Regions from separate parts of the Homo sapiens genome. Here regions 2, 3 and 4 are each linked to region 1. Evidence: fine-mapped QTL for protein levels in blood plasma. A gene starts in region 1. Each other region holds a variant in brackets. All regions are shown on one strand. Distances are between the middles of the regions.

Evidence for each region. A credible set is the group of variants that fine-mapping cannot tell apart. PIP is the chance, under the fine-mapping model, that this variant and not a neighbour inherited with it causes the effect. The UK Biobank Pharma Proteomics Project read protein levels with antibody pairs (Olink). The fine-mapping took linkage between variants from a reference panel, not from the people measured, so its PIPs are less certain.
Region 2: its variant is the best candidate, but not a certain one, in a credible set for the plasma level of the DPP10 protein (UK Biobank, PIP 0.61).
Region 3: its variant is the best candidate, but not a certain one, in a credible set for the plasma level of the DPP10 protein (UK Biobank, PIP 0.81).
Region 4: its variant is the best candidate, but not a certain one, in a credible set for the plasma level of the DPP10 protein (UK Biobank, PIP 0.73).

The regions. Positions count from the first base shown.
Region 1 is chr2:114,440,167-114,445,437 of GRCh38, forward strand. It overlaps DPP10 (dipeptidyl peptidase like 10), which reads left to right and starts at 2,475. Exons shown (of 26, transcript NM_020868.6): 1 at 2,475-2,672. The coding sequence starts at 2,613.
Region 2 is chr2:115,729,153-115,734,152 of GRCh38, forward strand. All of the region lies in intron 8 of DPP10 (dipeptidyl peptidase like 10), which reads left to right. Among named protein-coding and RNA genes, the nearest start is that of DPP10-AS1, 570 kb to the left of the region's middle. The variant G/A (reference allele first, on the strand shown) is at 2,974.
Region 3 is chr2:115,225,463-115,230,462 of GRCh38, forward strand. All of the region lies in intron 1 of DPP10 (dipeptidyl peptidase like 10), which reads left to right. Among named protein-coding and RNA genes, the nearest start is that of DPP10-AS1, 67 kb to the left of the region's middle. The variant G/A (reference allele first, on the strand shown) is at 1,919.
Region 4 is chr2:115,306,521-115,311,520 of GRCh38, forward strand. It overlaps DPP10 (dipeptidyl peptidase like 10), which reads left to right. Exons shown (of 26, transcript NM_020868.6): 2 at 2,719-2,833. Among named protein-coding and RNA genes, the nearest start is that of DPP10-AS1, 150 kb to the left of the region's middle. The variant C/T (reference allele first, on the strand shown) is at 2,322.

The DNA.
Region 1 (5,271 bases):
GATTTTTCTTTGGAACTTGGAGTTTGATATAATGTGGAGCCTGGAAAGGGAGCATATGGTGTATACGAGGCACTCTTTTCTCTTACTGTGATTTTTCTCTATTTTCAAAATGCAACTTTGGGAAAAGATTTTAGGTGGATTCTGGCCACCTACCTATAAATGGTAGTGTCAATATCTTTCTTGGATCCTGCTGCCATCCAGGTGGGGGTAGAACCTTTTTGAAAAATTGTAGAAAAGGGGTGAAGTCTCATGTGATTATAGTTGTAGAAATCCAGCAACTCATACCCTCTTTGTGGTAGGCATATAAATGCTGTCTCTATCAATGTGCCTGGAGAGGGTTCCTTGAAGTACTAGTGGCTCCTTCCATCCTGTACAGTTCTTTGATGGGGATGGGATACTCTGAACTCTTGGACTGCTCTCCCTCCCTGGGCTCCCCAGATAATTTAGTTTGGAAGTTTCTTAGATACCTAGTACAAAGTGCTATCTAAGAAAGGAATTAAGCCAATTCTACTGGTATAGAACATTCATTTATTCAGAGATTATCAAACTGTAAACCACCTGATGAAATGTTCATAGGTTTTTTCATTGAGTATTTTGTATGTTTTTTACTTCATTACTTTCTTCTCTTCTCTTTATTGTTTCCCCCCTATAATTTATTTGAGTTTATTTTGCCATTCTTTTTCCAACTCTTTGATATGAATAATTAGCTTATTAATTATTAATTTTATGCTTTTCTGCATTTCTGGTATAGGTACTTAATTATATACATTTTCCTTTAAATATTGATTTAGCTGCATACTGCAAATTTTCTGTGTTGTTTTCATTATTGTTGAATACAAAATGTTTAAACATTTTTAATATACTCTTTTTGTGATTTATGAATTATTCAAAGCAATGCTATTCAAGCAAAATACAAGATAAGCCACAAATTCCAGTCACATTTGTGATTTAGAATTGTAAACTTCAAATCATGAGATTTGTTGGCCCTATGGCTGCCTCTGGTTGTGCTCAATATGATGCCTGGATATTGCTACACCAGATTCTTGCACACAGCCTTTTGCCTGGTTCTTATTGGCTCCATCTCTTTTCCCATGATTCTCCTGATTTCTCCAATACTCTTGCCATTAACTTTTGTGGCTGCAAACAGTCTGATCTTACTTCTGTCACATCCTTACCTCCACTTTGCTACTCAGAACTATAACCTTCTGAAACTTAGCCATCCTCAAACATGTGCAGACTACTTTGTCAGAATGTTTAGATCCCTTTTCTGTTTTACAAGAGAAAATATGTGTTTATAATTATGTATAAATTAATTTCACCAAACATTAATTTATTTCATTTCACATTAAAGTTTATCTGTAATATTTTAGGCTGTTCATAAAAGCCTCCTGAATGTAGTTCGTTAGTTCAATCTTATAAACCTAGCATTTCATTAGTAGGATACATTTCTGATGAATAAATACTGTTGGTTTTCAACATCAAACACTTTGCAACAAAAGTTGGAAAAGAGTGTCCTGCATTTACTCAAGACTACTGGATCTTATTTCCAACCAGGATATATTTATTCTAGTTAGTGTTGATGTGACAATGGGGACTGGTGACTCGGAAAACTTAATTTACAAATATTTATAATTTATTTTGCCTAAAATGACATTAGGGACAGAGAGGTGACCATTTGGGGAGTTAGACTGGCATGAGCTAACTACCAGTTTGTCCCAGGCATTCAAAAAATACGGCTTCAAGGAAAGCAATGGTCAAAAATAAAGGTTGAAAATAAAAACATTGTCTAGCTTTGGTGCGATATCCAAAAACTACAATAACTATTGTATTTGAAAACTTTTTAAATATACCTTAAGCTTTCTGCCACCTTACAGAAAGGACAGTCTCTTGGCTGGCTGTTATGGCTAAATTTTAAAAATATCCATAGGGAATATCAGTCCTTCAACCTATAGATATAAAACCCCCAAATTCTGAAACTGCCAACAGTCTTTTTTTTTTTTTTTCCACAGCATTTACTTGTGTTTTGATTGCAAGAAGTACCCAGGAAGGAATAAAATTTAGTAACAGAATGAGGATGTTATGATTTTTTTTTAAACTGGGTTAGGGGTGGGGAGAGGGAGAGAGAGAGAGAGAAATATTTTGCACTGGAAAAACTATAATCTGGAGAGACAGAGGAGTTGAGAGTGCCCCTTTAAACTGCAGGACTGCAATTGATCTCTGTATGTTTTCTGGTTTTCGTCCCTTTGAAAGGGGAATGAGAGCCAGGATCATTGGCTGTACTGTGGAGCTGTCACATCTCCATACTGAAAAGGTACACTGCAAGTGAATTTAAACCGTTTTTGGCTTTCTATTGCATATTGCCAAGAGCTTTGAGACTGATGAACCAAGTAAATGCTCTATTTAGGGCTAAGTGAGATACAGATTCCTCCAATCTGATAGCGTTTCAGCCTCCGGAGTGAGGAAGCAGCAGAAACAGAAGCAGCAGAAGCAACAGCAGTAGCAGCGGCAGCAGCAACAGCAGCAGCCCCTACTGAAGTCCAATAGAGGAGACTTGATCTCTAGTTCATTCTGGAACTCCGCCTGGGATTGTGCACTGTCCAGGGTCCTGAAACATGAACCAAACTGCCAGCGTGTCCCATCACATCAAGTGTCAACCCTCAAAAACAATCAAGGTAGGATCTGGTTTTTCCCTCTGCTTCTGCACATGTGTCTTCATTCATCTACCTAACACATGGGCATTGATATATCGGGGTACTGACAGTGGACATACCTACTTGATTTGAGTTTGAATTGAAGGTTGAGTCACAATAAAGCATTTGGCTCTGCATGTGTGTGTAGACTGGAAAGAATAGTTTCCACTGAACACTTCTTTCATCTTCATGACTTTTTTTTTTTTTACTGAGAATCTATCAGAGGTATATTTCCAGAAGAAAGTTTTGTGAGTGTCTAGAAGAGTTTCCAGTCCATGCCAATTTTCTTGATAGAACTGGGGAAGAATTTGCAAACTGCTAGAAATAAATAGCATCAAATTGACTACAAATCTGATAACAGGATTTCATTGTCATATGAATTTTGGATCTCTTATCCTTTTTTAAAAAAAGCTCATCCTTCATTGTGAGCATTGAACTGGTGGTTATACTAAAGTGATTATAGTGAGAGAGGATGAAAGACTAGAGAGAGAGTATAAAATCACATGTCTTTATTTATATCACCATGTAACTCAAAACCAGTGAGATGATTGGAGACACTCTTCAATGCAGGTGTTGTTTAAAATTTGAGGCTTTTCTGACAGCACATGGTTAAAGGTAAAGAACAAACTCACAATTTCACTCTTCTGTTTTAGTTTCAAGTCATGCTTATACCATTCTCTTTGTTTTTATTCGGGATGCTCTTATTTCCAAGAAGGCTTATAAACGACCAGACTTCCAATCAAAGTTTACTATATTTTGCCATTTACTTGAATTGTATTATTATCTATGTGGATATTTTGCATCTTGAGGGAAAGTGATGGATTCGTCTGAAACTCTTTTATGAAAAAAAAAAAAAAACTAAAACAAAAAACGTGATATCCTGACAGGGCATCTTTAGTTACTGCAATCTCTCATTAACATACAAGTGCATACCTTTTGCTACTATTCCTGATAAGCCTGACTTTTTATGATTTATATTATGTTTTGGTTTATGTCTCAGGCCTTTAATAATATTGCATAGACTGTAATTACAAAAGGAATATAATTTTCAACAATGTCTCTTCTTCATGAATTTACCTACCGTTTGCCAGAGTGTTTCAGTGATAGATAAACCATAAACTAAACATGTTCCTCTATTTATTAGCAGTGACTTTTAAAAGCAATGGGGTTTCCAGGGTATATTAAATGATGCATAATTAGATTCCCATCATACATAAACATAGGGAGTTAACTGAAATCATGCAGAACTCATATTCAGATAATTTACACCACCTCTAATAACAGATATGAGAATCTTTTTCAGCATTAGATTTTCTGTGCTGTATCTAAGTTTAGAAATAAAAAATGTTGAGCTTTTGGTATAGTTTTCCTCTGTGTATCAGTTTCCCACATACATCAATTATCTAAGCATATCACTGAACAAAGCCAAAATAGTAAATACATGACACTCTACATTGGGATATATAAGCTCTAGTGGGAAATATGTATTGAAGCCTAAAGTGGGATAGAGTTACAAACTGGCTGCCTACTGCTAAGTATGTCTAGAATGCTATAACAAAACCAGTGGCTTTCTGTTTAAGAGTCTGAGGTCACAGGAATCAAGCATTTATTTTCCCTTTTCTTTATTGAGTAAGCATAAATGACTACTACTTTCAGAGACTTCAAATCACTTCCTTTATTAGTGCTCTGGCATTGGCTGCCCACAAACAAACTGTGGAACAGAAAAAAAAATGTTTCTAGTGTAGAGGTTTTACATCATCTTGCTGATCTTGCAGATGCTGTTTTTTCCTTCTAACTGCAGCCATTGAGTTGAAATGAAAAGTATCATAAAAATTGGACAACCCACCACTTAACAATGTATTATATTAATGGCTTAATGAAGGAATCTTGAATCAAAGCTCTGGGTAATTTGGTTAATTGTACAAGTTAAATTCTTTTGTGCACCCCATTCCCAATATTGCTCTGGGGAGCAAAAAAATGCTTGTGATGTTCATAAAATATATATAGTCGCAAGCACTGAACTATTAAGGGAGTAATTACTTGAGTATTTTGCAATTTGCAATAGTGAAAAGGGATGAGTGGAAAATCTCTCTTAGTTCAAATTATGTGCTCAATTATGAAACATTTATGGCTTTTTGAATTTATACTAAAAATGGCTATCTATATTTAGGTAATGCATTAGCCTATGAACAAAATGCAATAACAATCTAAAGAAAAACTCTAAGATGAGAGGGTTTTGGGAAGCTGTGGGACATTGGAGCTCAAAATACTCTTTGAACTATTAGAATTTTAGTTTCAAGCATGGTTGTTTAAAGTTAATTTTATTCCTCACTCTTAAATTTACTATCAATTTACTATCAGATAATTTTAAGTAACCCTCCCTCATGGAATCTGGTTGGCCTGCAGGTAATGATAACCCACTTTGAGGATCTGGAAATAAATAACTTGCATATTGCTCCATTTTAGAAATTCAAAAACCTCTAGAGACTTTTCTCCCAAAGCTCAGTGTAATAACCTCTAGAGAACTTTTCCCCCATCAGTATAGTAAATGCTGACTGTTTCTTCTCTCAACAGTTAAACT
Region 2 (5,000 bases), 1.3 Mb after region 1:
ATCTAAATCTGGCTTTTCTATTTCAAAGAGATACATTACTGGAGGGGACTGGGATGGCCCTCAGAATTTAATAAACAGGTGGACAACACATTTAAAATCTGGTTAGTTCTGGCAGTCTAGGTAGCAGGAGCTAATTGAAGTGCAGAGACTAAGACGTGCCCTTTTTCTTCAAAATATTATTGGTACTGTGTGACACCCTGACAGATGAAGAAACCATGTTAATGCAGTGTGGTAAGTAGTTGAATCTTAATCAACACAGAATTCTATGGAAGAACAAAGGAATGATACCATTCTAGGGATTTGCAAGCATTTTTTCTAAAGGAGAAACCCTGGCCAACAACAGTAGCTCAAGCCTGTAATCTCAGAGCTGTGGGAGGCCAAGGTGGGAGAATTATCCAAAGCCAGGAGTTCCATACCAGCCTAGACAAAATAGCAAGGTTTTCATTTCTACTAAAAAATTTTTAAAAATTAGCCAGATGTGATGGCATGCACCTGTGTTCCCAGCTGAAGTGAGAGGATTGTTAATGAGAGAGGATTGCTTGAGCTCGGGAGTTGAAGACTGCAATGAGCTATGATCCAGGCCCCTGAACTCCAGCTTAGGCAACAGAGTGAGATCCTTACCTCTTAAAACAAGGGAGAGAGAGAAAAAGAGAGAGAGAGAGAAGAGAGAGAGAGCATCTGAGTCAAGCCTGAACAGTTAACAAGTGTTACGCATGAGAAGAAATTAGGAAGGAAAAATCTAAGCAGATGTAACAATTTGCAAAAACCCACAAGTGTGTCCCTAGGGAACCAAAGTCTCCTTGATATAATTGGGCCATAAAATTTGAGACAAAGGAAGGTAGCAAGAAGCGAGGGATAGTGACCTCTATCAATGATTTGGAATTTCAATTATTTTCCTACCATTTAATAGGAAAACTAATAGAAGTTTTCAAGTAAGGGAGTGACAAGATTGGATCTTCCATATGAACAGATTGTTTTTGTGACAGCAGGAACCTGGGGTCTAAGAGTGGAAAGAAACGGTGAGCGGCTGTAAGGCTTCTTCTATGTTCTATCAAGAGATAATGAGCAATGGAACTAGGGTTAAAGCAGTAAAAAGGAGGAAAGACTCTAAAATTGATGAGACAATGAAATATATAGGTCTTAGTGGCTAAGCAGATGGGGTGAATGATAAGAAGTCAAGGATGATTCTGTGTCTTCTGGTTTGGGTCACTAGTAAGTAGTGGTGGCAGACATAGTGAGCAAGCATTAACAAGGAGCAGTGGGTTTCAGGGAAGAGAAGACTAGATTAGCAGCAATGCGGGCATTGAACCACGTACTGACGTGCTCCCTTGGTGATAAAAGGTGGTCTGTAACGTCGATGAAGTTTTCAGTCAACTGAGGGTATACTCAATGTAGACCATGCTTATTGTGCTGCTCCGTCCCGAATTAAGATGACTTGGGTCTCTGTCCTATTGAAAAGGCTTCATACATTTATAAGGAAATTTTAAGGAGAGAAATTAGAGACCGTTTCCTGACAAATACGGTAATTTTCTTAACTAAAGAATAAAAATCTATGTATTCGGTCTGAGAGTAAACTGTTTGTAGGGGTTGTGGAGAGCAGAACAAACGGGTAATACAAACTTTTGTGATGATGCTGTAGGTCTGACGCATTCCAAAGGGGAAAGGAAAAAGTATAGTTTTTGCCATACTTTGGGCTCCTATGTTGCCGTTAACTAGGAAATGCTGTACGTGTATGTGATTTAATCATCAAAATGTTTGTGCATCTAATCATTTATGAAGAAACTAAGACGCACCCAGTGCTGTGGCTCATGCCAGCAATCCTAGCACTTTGAGGGGGCGAGGTGGGCAGATCACTTGAGCCCAGGATTTCAAGACCAGCCTGGGCAATATGGCAAAATCCTGTCTCTACTAAAAATACAAAAAAAGGCTGGGTGTGGTGGCTCATACCTGTAATCCCAGCATTTTGGGAGGCCAAGGCCGGTGGATCATGAGGTCAGGAGATTGAGACCATCCTGGCCAACATGGTGAAACCCCGTCTCTACTAAAAATACAAAAATTAGCTGGGCATGCTGGTGCGTACCTGTAATCCCAGCTACTCGGGAGGCTGAGGCAGGAAAATCGCTTGAACCAGGGAGTTGGAGGTTGCAGAGCCAAGATCATGCCACTGCACTCCAGCCTGGTGACAGAGCAAGACTCTGTCTCAAAAAAAAAAAAAATTTAACTGGGTGGGGTGGTGGGGTAGCACATACCTGTGTTCCCCCCTACTCTGGAAGCTGAGGTGGGAGGATCACCTAAGCCAGGAAGTTGAGGCTGCAGTGAGCCAAGATCATGCCACTGCACTCCAGCCTGGGCAACAGAAGCGAGACCCTGTCTCAAAAGAAAAAATTTAAAAAAGAAACCAAGACTCAGAGAGGATCAGTGATTTAGACATGGCCTCAGAGCTAATGAGTGGGAGAGCCAACATTTGAATGTGTGTCTTTTGTTCCTAAAGCCAGGGCTTAGTCACTAGTCTACTCTACTTGTTATAGGGGGATGTCCTTCACTGTTCCCCAAGACACAACACACGTTTTGGGACCTAAATTGTCAGACTTCAGTGATCTGTTTCCTCAGCCAAAGACTCATCCTACTGTCCATGGACTTACTCTAATCCTCACTGCATTTCCAGGAGGAACCCTACCCATGACTTCAATGTTAAGGTTTGGCAGAGGGATGTAAGCTATTCAGATGTTTTTGATTTTCCCTCACTATTTTGACTGCTACCCCCAACCTCTGCTTCAAGAGTCCTACATGCACCTTACCCTCCCACTATCACCTTGCTTGTGGAATGTGCCAGGAGCTCCCAAGCTCCAGACCTTTTTTTTCCCCTTTAATGCACTCACTGAAACACAATGATATTGCCTAGGGAATGCATGTAATTTCAACGTTATGTGTGTGATACTCTGGTGTGGAGATTTCCTTTTTATTACTTTACAG[G/A]AGTCAATTACAATCTAAATTAGCATGTATGGGAGACACAGAAAGTAACATGTAACATTTCAACTTTTTTAAAATTGAAATTTACCTTTTGTAAATGTCATAGAAAAAAAAGATGAGAGAAAGAGTGACATAAAAGACAATAAAATATTTTTACAGTAAGCTTTACAGGCATGTCTTAATCTTTTAAGACCAGGCCAATCTGTAAGAGTGGCTGCTGCCCCCAACTAGTCACTAAATAGAGTCCTTAAAAGTGTCAGTTTTAAGAATCTTTGTCTCTATTTTTAGTATTGTTTAGTTCCTAAAGAAAGTAAAGCAATATAAAGTATAATGCATTTTAAACAGCGAAGTCAGAAAAATAAGAAAATGCTCAAAAAGGAAGATTATTTAAAATGTAATTCGCACAAAACACGTATAATGTTATTCACTTAAATTGCTGTATTTAACCTAGCAATGTAATTAAATACGATATCAGATCAAAGTTTTACTTTAAAAACTTTTAAAATGTTACTAAAAAGAAAGTTTACAGCTACCCACTTCACAGCTTTGAAAATTTCCATAAAGCATTTAATCTATTAAATAGGAAAAAAAATGACTCACTTTCAAATATTTAAGCATATAGAATAATGGAACTAATATGCTTAAGTGATTTACAGATATATTTTAGAACCTTGTATATTTAAGGGATTATTCCTTAAAGTTTAATCCAACAGCTGTGGAGCAAATATACCTGCCAGGCATTATCTAAGAGCAATACGATGAGAAATACGGGTTTCCATGTCTTGGGTATTTCCAACTTAGTGTAGTGATAAACAATAAACAACTATTGTATTGGGAACCATTTGGAGCATAGTAAATATAAATATAAATAGGATTTATTTCACATACTAAATAGAATTATAAGTAGAACTAAGTTTGATAGGATGGAGGAATGTCAGGTGCTTCATAGATGACATGGGCCTTGTGTTGGTATTCAAGAATGACAAGAATGAAAAGGTGCGGAAAAATTCACGAGATAAGCAATATTCTTATCAGCAGATTCTGATTGTTACACTTTTTTTGTTGAAATAAAACAGGGCAAAATGCCTATTTTCACCTTCATGTTTGTTTCACATTAATGTTTCACATTAATGTCTTTTGGCGACATGAAATTGCATTCATTTCATCATTGATTCAACAAATATTTATTGAGCACTTGCTCAGTGTCATCTATGGGGCTGCAGCATGGGAGTCACAGGAAGGCAGGGTTATCAGTAGTGCTGAGTCTCCAGAGGTCAAACAAGGGAAGGATTCCAAAGCTTTTGTTGGATTTGCTCATAGATCATCGATGGCCTTGACAGGAGTAAAATCAGTTAATTGGTGGGGCCAAATCCAAGACTGCAGTGGATGGACATGTAAATGGGGAGTGAGAAAGTTATGAATAGAGACTATTCTTTCAAGGAATTTGACAGTGAAATGCAGAAAATTGAAAAAAAAAAAAAAATCAACCACAGGCCTGCAGAGCTGCAAGTAGCATCCTCAGGAAATCCTACTGGTCTGAACTGACAAACTAAAAATGGAAAAAATCAGCTTGCTTTTTACAATAACACATTAATCTAAACACAATCGTTGTATCTCAGTATTGTGGAAGTGCTTTGTGTTGTGGCTATGTTTTTAAGTGCCTGTGATATAAAACCACATGTGCTGAAAACTCCATCTGCTCTGCAGTGAGATTTTCTAAATCAGAGTAATAAAAACGATGAAGAGCCAAACGTACACTAAATTGGAATGAAATGCCATTTGTAAAAATAAATTCTTTGTAAATAATATAATATAATTAACATTGGAAGTTTCAATCCATGAGTAAATGTGCCCATTAGTTGCAGTTAAAGAAGCTTGTGCCTTATCCAGGATGACTGTTAAGCAAATGCATATTAAAGATTATTTTATTTACCACCTTCCCATTCCAGGTAGCTTTATCTTTCCATCTGAAGAAAGTCACAAGGCTCTCTATATGATTATTTTGGTACATTAGCATTTTTATGGGGAAG
Region 3 (5,000 bases), 790 kb after region 1:
ACACTTATATATTGAAGTCAAACCGCATGAATGTGTGTGTGTGTGTGTGCGTGTGTGTGTGTGTGTGTATGCATGTATATCTGGAACTCAGGGAAGTTTACTGAGCTGGGGATAGATTTGCCAATCATCTATGGGTAGTTAGGAATTAGAACTATGGGTATCAATGAAGTTTCCTAGGGACATACATGAATGAATAGAGATGAACATAATAAATCAAGTATTAATAGTAATTATTTCTCTGTTATAATTATAGGTATTCTTTGTGCTAGTTTTCTTTATTTGTATTTTTGTTTTACTTTAATCAGCATATATTGATTTTTGTGGGAAAAAAATTGAAAAAGATTTTTTTTTTCAATTGAGAAGAAAAAGTTTATTGTATATGGCAAAGGGTAGAGGAGAAGAGAACCAAGATGGACCCGGGGTTTTGTGTCTGGATCAAAAGGCTTTTCTCCTCTCATTTTGCACTGTTTACCCCACTCAGTTTGGCGCTACCTTTTATTACTCACTAGCAGTATCATTTCCATCAAAACTCTAATTTTTAAATATTTTTTGGACAGTAATGTTAGCTGTTATCAGAAGTTGTCAACAGAACTTAAATTCAATTTTACTTATACTTTAACATACAGGCTGCACATGCTAAATGCTTGTCACTTAGAATGCTGTTCTCATTAGTCTGGATTGCAGATTTTGTTGTCATGATGATATGTCTGGCAACATTCTCATAGTGGGTGAGCTCGACTGTCTAGGGATTATCTTCTATTACAGTTCAGTTTATCATGCTCTGTTTGATATGTTCTTTATTAAGAAACTTAATTACCTATAGTTCTAGATATTATGTGCTAATGAGTTGTACGTGTGAGTAAATGTATTCCGAACTCATTTTTGGCTGCTGATATATTTCTACAAAGATGCTTTGAGAAAAAGAAGCGATAAGATCTGCTTCCATTCTTGGTCAGAAAAGTTGCCACTTAGTCATAATGTGGCTTTATTCCATGTTTCCATGAAATTCATTTGAGACATAGTAAACTCATATTTTTGAATTTAATATTTGTAAGCACACTGTCAGTTATCCACATAGTCAAGTAAAACTTAGCCGTGAACAAAATCTTTGAACTGTAATGTCATATTGTGTCAGGTAATCTTATTCAGCTATGAAATACTTAATACTTTAAAAATGACACTTTATTGAGCACTTCTATGTATAACAGTGTTTAGTAAAATGTTTATTTTGACTACTTACTATAGTTACATCAATTTGGTATTTCCAGCAGTAGTCAGAGGAAGCACAATTTAATTAAATATGTGGATGGAGAAAATTGATTTCAGAGCAAAGTTTCTTGTTTCAGATTACTTGTTTGGATCTCAGATTTTGCGTGTTGTTAAGGGACTTACATTTGTATAACCAATTGTAATAAATGAAGATTTCCATGAGGCATATGGTTGCATTCATTTCGGAAGAACTACAGATTTCAAGTAAAACAAAACAAAACACAGAAATCACTGAACCAAGGCACATTTATTGAGTACAGACATCAAACAAATCTCATTTTTGTATTAAAATCTAAAAATTCCATATAAATAGCTATGTTTGTAGGTTGTTCTCTTAGGCTAAAAATAAAGACAGATATTGCATCTTTCATCAACCTAACATCAAGATATTTGCGTGGGACCAATCTTCTCAAGATTTGATTTTAAATTGTTGCTTAGTCTTATTCAAATTGCATGTATCCTTCCCTCTCAAGGTACATAAAATGAAATGTTCTGAAAAGACAATTATGTGAATATGGGAGATTCTAGGGACTTACAGACTCTACTAATTTTAGCAATAATTTTTTTCTCATAGTGAGGTCCATTTTCAGAGTACATTAAATCATGTATGAATAGTCTTCATCTTTCAGTAAAGAAACTGATTCTTCCA[G/A]TTGAAATTTAAACTTTCTTTTACTCTCTTTTTCTTTTTTCTGTTGTCAACTTCATTGAAATGTAATTTGCATACAGTGAAGTTCATCCTTCTTAGTGAACAGTTCTGAGTTTTGGCAGCTATATATATCTGCTGCCACTATTAGGATACAGAATAGTTAGCCCAAACTCCCTCTTGCCCCACTTTAGTCACCTTTCCTTGACTCTCACTCTTTGGTAGGCGCCAATATGTTTTTTGTTCAGATAGTTTTGCTTTAGCAGATTGTTATATAAATAAAATCAGACAATATGTAGCCTTTCAGGATTGGTTTCCAAAGTTCATCTAATGCATTTGAGATTCGTGCATGCTGTGGTGTGTGTATCAGTCTCTGTTTTCTTTTAATGCAGAATAGTATCCCATTATATGGATATGCCATAGTTTGTTCAGCCATTTTATGCTTTCTTTTTATTCTCTTTTTTCAAAATTAATTATTTATTTATATTAATTTTGTGGGTACATAATAGTTGTATATATTTATGAGATACATCCGATTTCTTTTTTTTCCTTTTTTTTTTTTTTGGAGACAGGGTGGTAGTCTGTCACCCAGGCTAGAGTGCAGTAGTGTGATCGTGGCTCTCTGCAGCCTGGACCACCCTGGACTCAACCAATTCTCCTGCTACGGCCTCCTGAGTGGTTGGGACTACAGGTGTGCACTATTATGCCTTGCTGATTTTTTTGTGTATTTATACATATATTTTTTGTTGTTGTTGTTGACATGGGGTTTTGCAAAATTGACAGACTGGTGTTAAACTACTGGGCTCAAGTGGTCTGTGTGTCTTGGCCTACCAAAGTACTGGGACTACAGGTGTGAGCCACTGCACCCGGCCCTATACATGGGGTACAGGAGATGCTTGATACAGGAATACAATGCATACCAGTCATATCAGGGTAAATGGGGTGTCCAGCACCTTAAGCATTTACCCTTTCTTTGTGTTACAGACTATAAAATTATACTCTTTTAGTTATTTTAAAATATAGAATAGATTATTGTTACTGTAGTTACCCTGTTTTGCTATCAAATATAGATCTTATTCACCCTATCTAACTATATTTTTGTACCCACTAACAAAACCCGCTTCAATCCCCCCTCCAGCCACTACCACACTACCATTCCCAGCCTCTGGTAACCATCATTCTACTCTCTATCTCTGTAAGCTCAATTTTTTTTTAAAAAATTTAGTTTCCACAAATAAGTAAGAACATGTGAAGTTTGTCTTTCTGCACCACACTTATTCCACTTAACATAATGACCTCCTGTTCCATCCATGTTGTTGCAAATGACAGGATCTCATACTTTTATATGGCTGGATAGTATTCCATTGTGTATAAGTACAACAATTTCTTCATCCACTCATCTGTTGATGGACACTTAGGTTGCTTCCAAATTTTGGCTATTTTGAATAGGGCTGCAATAAACATAGAAGTGCAGGTATCCCTGTGATACACTGATTTCCTTTCTTTTGGGTGTATACTTGGTGGTGGGGTTGCTGGATCTTATAATAGCTCTATTTTTAGTCTTTTAAGGAACCTCCAACTGTTTGCCATAGTGCTTGTACTAATTTACATTCCCACCAACAGTGTACAAGGGTCCCCTTTTCTAAATATCCTTGCCAGCACTTATTACTGCCTGTCTTTTGAATAAAAGCCATTTTAACTGGGATGTGATGATATCTCATTGTAGCTTTGATTTGCATATCTCTGATGATCAGTGATGTTGAGCATCTATTCATACACCTGTTTGCCATTTGTAGTCTTCTTTTAAGAGGTGTCTATTAGATCTTCGCCCATTTTTAATTGCATTATTAGACTTTTTCCCTATATAGTTGTTTGAGCTCCTTATGTAATCTGGTTATTAATCTCTTATCAGATGGATAGTCTGAAAATCTGTTCCCCCATTCTGTAGGTTGTCTCTTCACTTTGTTGATTGTTTCCTTTGCTGTGCAGAAGCTTTTTAACTTGATATGATTCCATTTGTCCATCTTTGCTTTCGTTGCGCATGCTTGTTGATTATTACTCAAGAAATCTTTGCCAACTACAATGTCCTGATTCCTCAGTGGTTTTTGTTTCTTGTTTTTGTACAGTAGTTTCATAGTTTGAGGTCTTAGATTTTAGTCTTTTATCCATGTTTATTTGATTTTTATATACAGATCTAGTCTTATTCTGCATGTGGATATCCAGTTTCTCCATCATCATTTATTGAAGAGATTGTTCTTAGGACCTTTGTCGAAAATGAATTCACTGTATATGTATAAATTTGTTTCTGAGTTCTCCTATTCTATTCTATTCTATTCTATTCTATTCTATTCTATTCTATTCTATTCTATTCTATTCTATTGGTCTATGTTTCTTTTTATGCCAGTAGCATGTTGTTTGTTCACTATAGCTCTGAAGTATAATTTGAAGTCTGGTAATGTAATTTCTCCATTTTTTCTTTTCTTTTCTTTCTTTTTTTTTTTTGGCTTAGGATAGCTTTGGCTATTCTGGGTCTTTTGTGATTCCACGTAAATTTTAGGATTGTATTTCCTATTTCTGTGAAGAATGGCATTCGTATTTTGATAGGAATTGCACTGAATCTCCAGATTCCTTTGAGTAGTGTGGACATTTTAACAATATTGATTCTTCGAGCCCATGAACACGGAATATCTTTGTATTTTTCTTGGGTCTCCTTCAGTTTCTTTTATCAATGTTTTACAGTTTTTATTGTAGAAATTGTTTGTTCTTTTTGTTGTTGTTGTTACTTCCTAGCTATTTTATTTTATTTCCGGCTATTGTAAATGGGATTACTTTCTTGATTTCTTTTTCAGATTGTTTATTCTGGGCATATAGAAATGGCTATTTTAATGTTGATTTTATGTCTTGCAGCTTTACTGAATTTGTTTATTAGTTTGAATAGTCCTTGGTGGAGTCTTTAGGTTTTTCCAAATATAAGATTATATCATCTGCAAAGATGATTTGACTTTTTTCTTTCCAAGTTGAATGCCCTTCAGTTCTTTCTCTTGTCTGATTGATTTAGCTAGGACTTCCTACTTTATTTTCATTTTGT
Region 4 (5,000 bases), 870 kb after region 1:
CAGTGTAGGGATGTTAAAGAACTTTGGAGAAAAAAAGTAACGTAAGTAACACCATGCTTTAGAAATGTAATGGTAATAGAATATAAGGTGGATGGAAAGGGGAGAATTATATTACATTCATTAAGTCAGCAGTTCTCAAATAGGGACTTGTATATGCCTTGAGCATTGATGAGTCATTTCAGAGGAACCACACATTCTTATGTGCATCACTTTATGAACAGAAAAATATGTCTCGCTCAAATTTGTTTTACCACTTTTTAAATGGTGGACTTCCGTAGCCAGCTGTGACTTGGAAAATATACATTTATTTGCAAACATTACTGACTTCAGGATAGCATTACTGAATTCCACATATTACTGTGAATTTTCCCAAATAAAAAGTATTGATGTACAGTTATGTATGGGTCCAAATAACTTATTGATTTATTGATTCTTTAATGTACTTGTTCTAGAAATATTTATCTTTACAAGTGGCATTATAGTGGTTAAGTGTGATCTTTATAATCAGATTTTATGAACTAGAACTCCAGCTCTCCTACTTATTAGTGATAAAAGGATATGTTACTAATCTCTTCAAATCCCGTTTTCTTATCTGCAAATTTGTGAAGATGACACTAATCTTACCAGATTATTTTGAGGATTATGTGAGATTGCAAATCTAAAATATTTCAATACCAGACACATAATAATATATATAAGCTATTATTACTCTTTGTTAGACTATGTCTGGTAGACATTACATGGTTTTATCATATTCACAAACTGAAAAACACAGTCAAAAGTCATTTCTCAAATGGTTTGTCATGAGTTGGAGTGACAGCATATCAAGATCATAATCAGTAAATTTCAGTTTATAATTTTTTCTTGATTCTCTTACTGAATTGAAAAGTCAGTTATAATTGCTACATTTCTATTCTTTTTCCTGTTCTTACATTGTGAAACAATAATATGTGCTTGCTTCTGTTAGAGTTAATAAATAGGAAAGTATTTATGGTTCTTGGCCCAGATACCCATTCGCTGTTGGTTACTGCCCTTTTTTTCACTGTCTCAGTTCTTGAGATGAGTATTTCCCAACTTTCAGACCACTGTAGGTTTTGATTTACAGCAGCAGCCTCTCTCGTTCTGTCACTCTACCTTCTGAGTAGCCTTGAAGTAGGGCATCATTATAGAGAATCAGCAATCATCACAGCACACACATTCTAACAAAGAAACTCACCTAGAAACTTGCAGGAACGTTGCATTCCAGATAAGGGTTTATGGTCACAAGGCAACTATTGACTGTCTTTATATCACTTCTCTAAAGCTGATAATTTGGGGGACCCACTGTATTGATTTACGTGGAAAATATGAATGAGAATCCTAAAGTGCAAGAGGAATAGAAGTGTTGGATAATAAGCATTATTTGAAAAAGAGGTGTGGAGCAAGTCATTTAAGAAAAAGTGGAATTGATCTCTCCTGGATTTGGTTTATCAGAATGAAAGACTAACTTAGAGCGATTTATCTGAGAAGGGAAACAACAAACAACAAAATGCCTCCTATGCATGGTTTCTTCTTGTATTTATTTAGAGTCTAGTTCTTTAAATCTGCCGGGTTTATGGCACAATTCAATACCAAAATAACTATATGAATATTGACATCAATGTTTTAATCTGTGAGTCACAGGAACTCATGTACAAATTTATTAAATGTTTTCTATTCTGTTTATATTTGTTGACAACAAAGCGGCTCTACGGCTTCTGGTGTGATTTGTGCACATGTAGTGAGCTGGATATCTTCATATTTTGTTTCATTTATCACCAAATCTGTTAGCTATTTCTAAATAAAGAGGCTGTATTGAGAAAGGATGAAAAGCAGTTGGGAAATGGAGTAGGAAGAAAAAAATGAGAAGCTCAGTGTTTTATAAACTGTATTGCAAAAAAAGCTGACTTTCATTTCAAATCATTGTGGTCTGTGCTTTGCTTTGGTGAATTATGCCCACACATATCTAGTCAACACAGGAGAGCACAGATCATTGGAGGAATGAATAGCTTTACCACATGCATCGTGAGAGATGTACAAGTTTATTTTCCCCATCAACCATACCTTTTTCCAATATCATGCATGTTGCCCAGCAAGACAGTGTCATTAACCACTGGTATAGAAGGACTCATTTAATTTAGTTAACTAAATCCTGTTTTTTTTTTTTTTTTTTTTTTATGAGTGGTGGGAGAACTGTTTAAAAAAGACCTGTTTGGTTAACAAATGTGCGCTGCTCTGCAGTGAGGGACATTTTGAATGATTTTCCCATTTCTAGTCTTTGCCCCATCCAGTTAGAAAGTAGC[C/T]CGTAGTGCTTCAAGAACATTTACATTTACATCTTTATTGTAGGTTCCATTGTAGCAAGAATACATGTAAATGGACTCGCTCTATTTCAATAATTATTTTGCAGAGTATTTTGGCTATCATCCTGGTGTTTATAGTCAATGCATTTTTACACCATCTACATTTTGGACAGCAAGCATAAAACGCTGCTGGTTTATCTCACAGAGAGAGCAGATTGTCCCCCAAAAGATAGCCATTTATAATATGTGCACTTTTGAATAATTAAATGAACTACTGAAGAGGAAATGGATTCTAATCAGCTTTCAAACTGTGATTGTGCCATGCACTGAATCATTCCTTTATGAATACATTTCTCTTGGAGCATGAATAATTACAAAACTTTTTTTTCTATCTCGGTAGGAACTGGGAAGTAACAGCCCTCCACAGAGAAACTGGAAGGGAATTGCTATTGCTCTGCTGGTGATTTTAGTTGTATGCTCACTCATCACTATGTCAGTCATCCTCTTAACCCCAGGTAATCTGTCTTTATTCCTCTCTTATGATGGATGGTATTGTGGATGATAATTTCGCATTCAAATGCCTTAAGAGGGTAGCAATATGTGGTATCTTAGGGCACATTAGCATGGGTTGGAATTTGGAAAAAAAGCATAATCAGACATTTTGCAAATGGCACAGTAATTCTGCAGTTCAAATATCATGCAGGATATTTTGGGGAAGCTGAAAATGTAAAATATGTAAGTTGAGAATGCCAAGGAGATTTTTGGTCTCCATTGCCACTTACAGACTTACTATGTGTTAGTTTGATAAATGCAGAAGACATTTGACTTTTATTGTGGGTTGAAGATGAGGGAGTGGCATCTGGAAGTTTCTATATATAGATGATAACCCAACTGTATGGAAATGGAAAGACAGGATTTGATGGAAAAAGATCAGATCGAAAGAGAGTGATCTAAGCCTCTAAATTTGGACACCTATTTCTTGTGTCTTCTTTTCCTTTCTTTCCTAAAGTTTTTACATTCTAAGTTTCTACCCTATCTAAAGAAACTTTGCAAATTGCCCCTGCAATGATTTTTGGACTGTGTTCTTCAGATTAAAGAGTTTAATACTAATATGGAAATTATCATTGTGCTTCTTTCTGGGGACTATTTCAATACCCAGGAGATTCATTACTCTTTAGTAGGTACTAATAAGGAAGGCAGAGATAAAGGGATCACTTTTAAACTCCTTCAGTTGTCTTCCAGATACATTTAGCAGTTGCTGCAACCCACCCACCCAACTGTTTTTCTCAAAGACCAAACACCCACATATGACACAGTGTTATGAAAAATAGTCATTTCTGGGATAGGATTGAATGAATCCAAAAATCAACTGATATTTTTAAATTATAGCCTGTTGTTGAATGCTATTTATTTCCACTTCAGGTTTGTCTTAGTTTTGTTATTTTATGAGCCCCTTAAACACATTGAACTTATTTCCTGATGTACAAAATATGATTAACAATAACTGTTTTTCAGAGTCATTTAGTCAAATAATTTTGGTGACTAATTATACAAATGGCAGTATCAATTGTTCCAGTGAGACACTTCGTGAGATATACCATCTTTGAAAAATACTGACATTGAAATAAATAAACTGCCAAAAATGCAGTTTTTAGATGTTAGTTAACATGTGGAGAGGTTGAGAAAGAAATTAAGGGAGCTACTAGGGAGGAAGGAGGAGAGAAAGGTAATTGGAAAGGAAGAAAGAAAAAATTCCCTGGTAAAAGTTGGCTTATCCGGCATTCTCCCCAGGAACCTTTTCTTAACTGCCTCATTTGTACATCTGCAGTACAATGTCATTGAGCAATGTGATGGCTCTAAGTTGCTGCATAATGCCAAGAATCATTGTTACAGGAAGATGAGTTTCAGCATGGTGTTTCACTTAAACACAAGAAGTTTAACATAATTATAAAAAAAGAATGAGTCGACATTGCTGCCTTCTATTGATGGCTATTAGCCAGATGGAGGTATTCATGTCATAATCCCTGTGTATTTCTCTTGAACTCTTTTTCTTTCATCCTGGTTCTAGCATCCTTGGCCCAGTGATTCACTTTCTCAGGTTTTCTTGTTACTCATTGAGGCCATAGTGATATTTTGGTGTCCTTGAGAGTTTGATACAACAAAGACCACATAGAGTGAGGCACTCACTAAGTTAAACTTCTGCTCAACCCTTTTCAATTTTTCCCAGTATAAAACCACAGTGATGAACCATAATTGAGTTCATTTTGTCCTGCACTTATTCATTTGTTAAAGCAAGAACAAGCGTGACATACCTGAGTTTGAGTTCTGCCTCTGTAATACAGTAGTTTTGTGCAATTTGGCAAGTTATTTAACCTTCTCTCTCACTTTACTCATCTGCATGATGGGTATAATATTTAGTTCCAACATTGCAGTGTTATTATGGAGGTAAAATGAGATAATGTAGTTCAAGAGTTTATTTAGCATGCTGCCTAGCACTGCTGCTGCTATTCCTTTGATGATTGCTATTATTCAGTACTTATTGACCACCAGAAACCATGACAAGCAGTGTTATATAAAGAATGTTCCCCAGAAAAGGTATAAAACCTCTCAGGAATATACATCTTCTGTGACTTCAATTTTAGTTATGACAAACGGAAAGGGACAAAATATTTAACCTGAAGT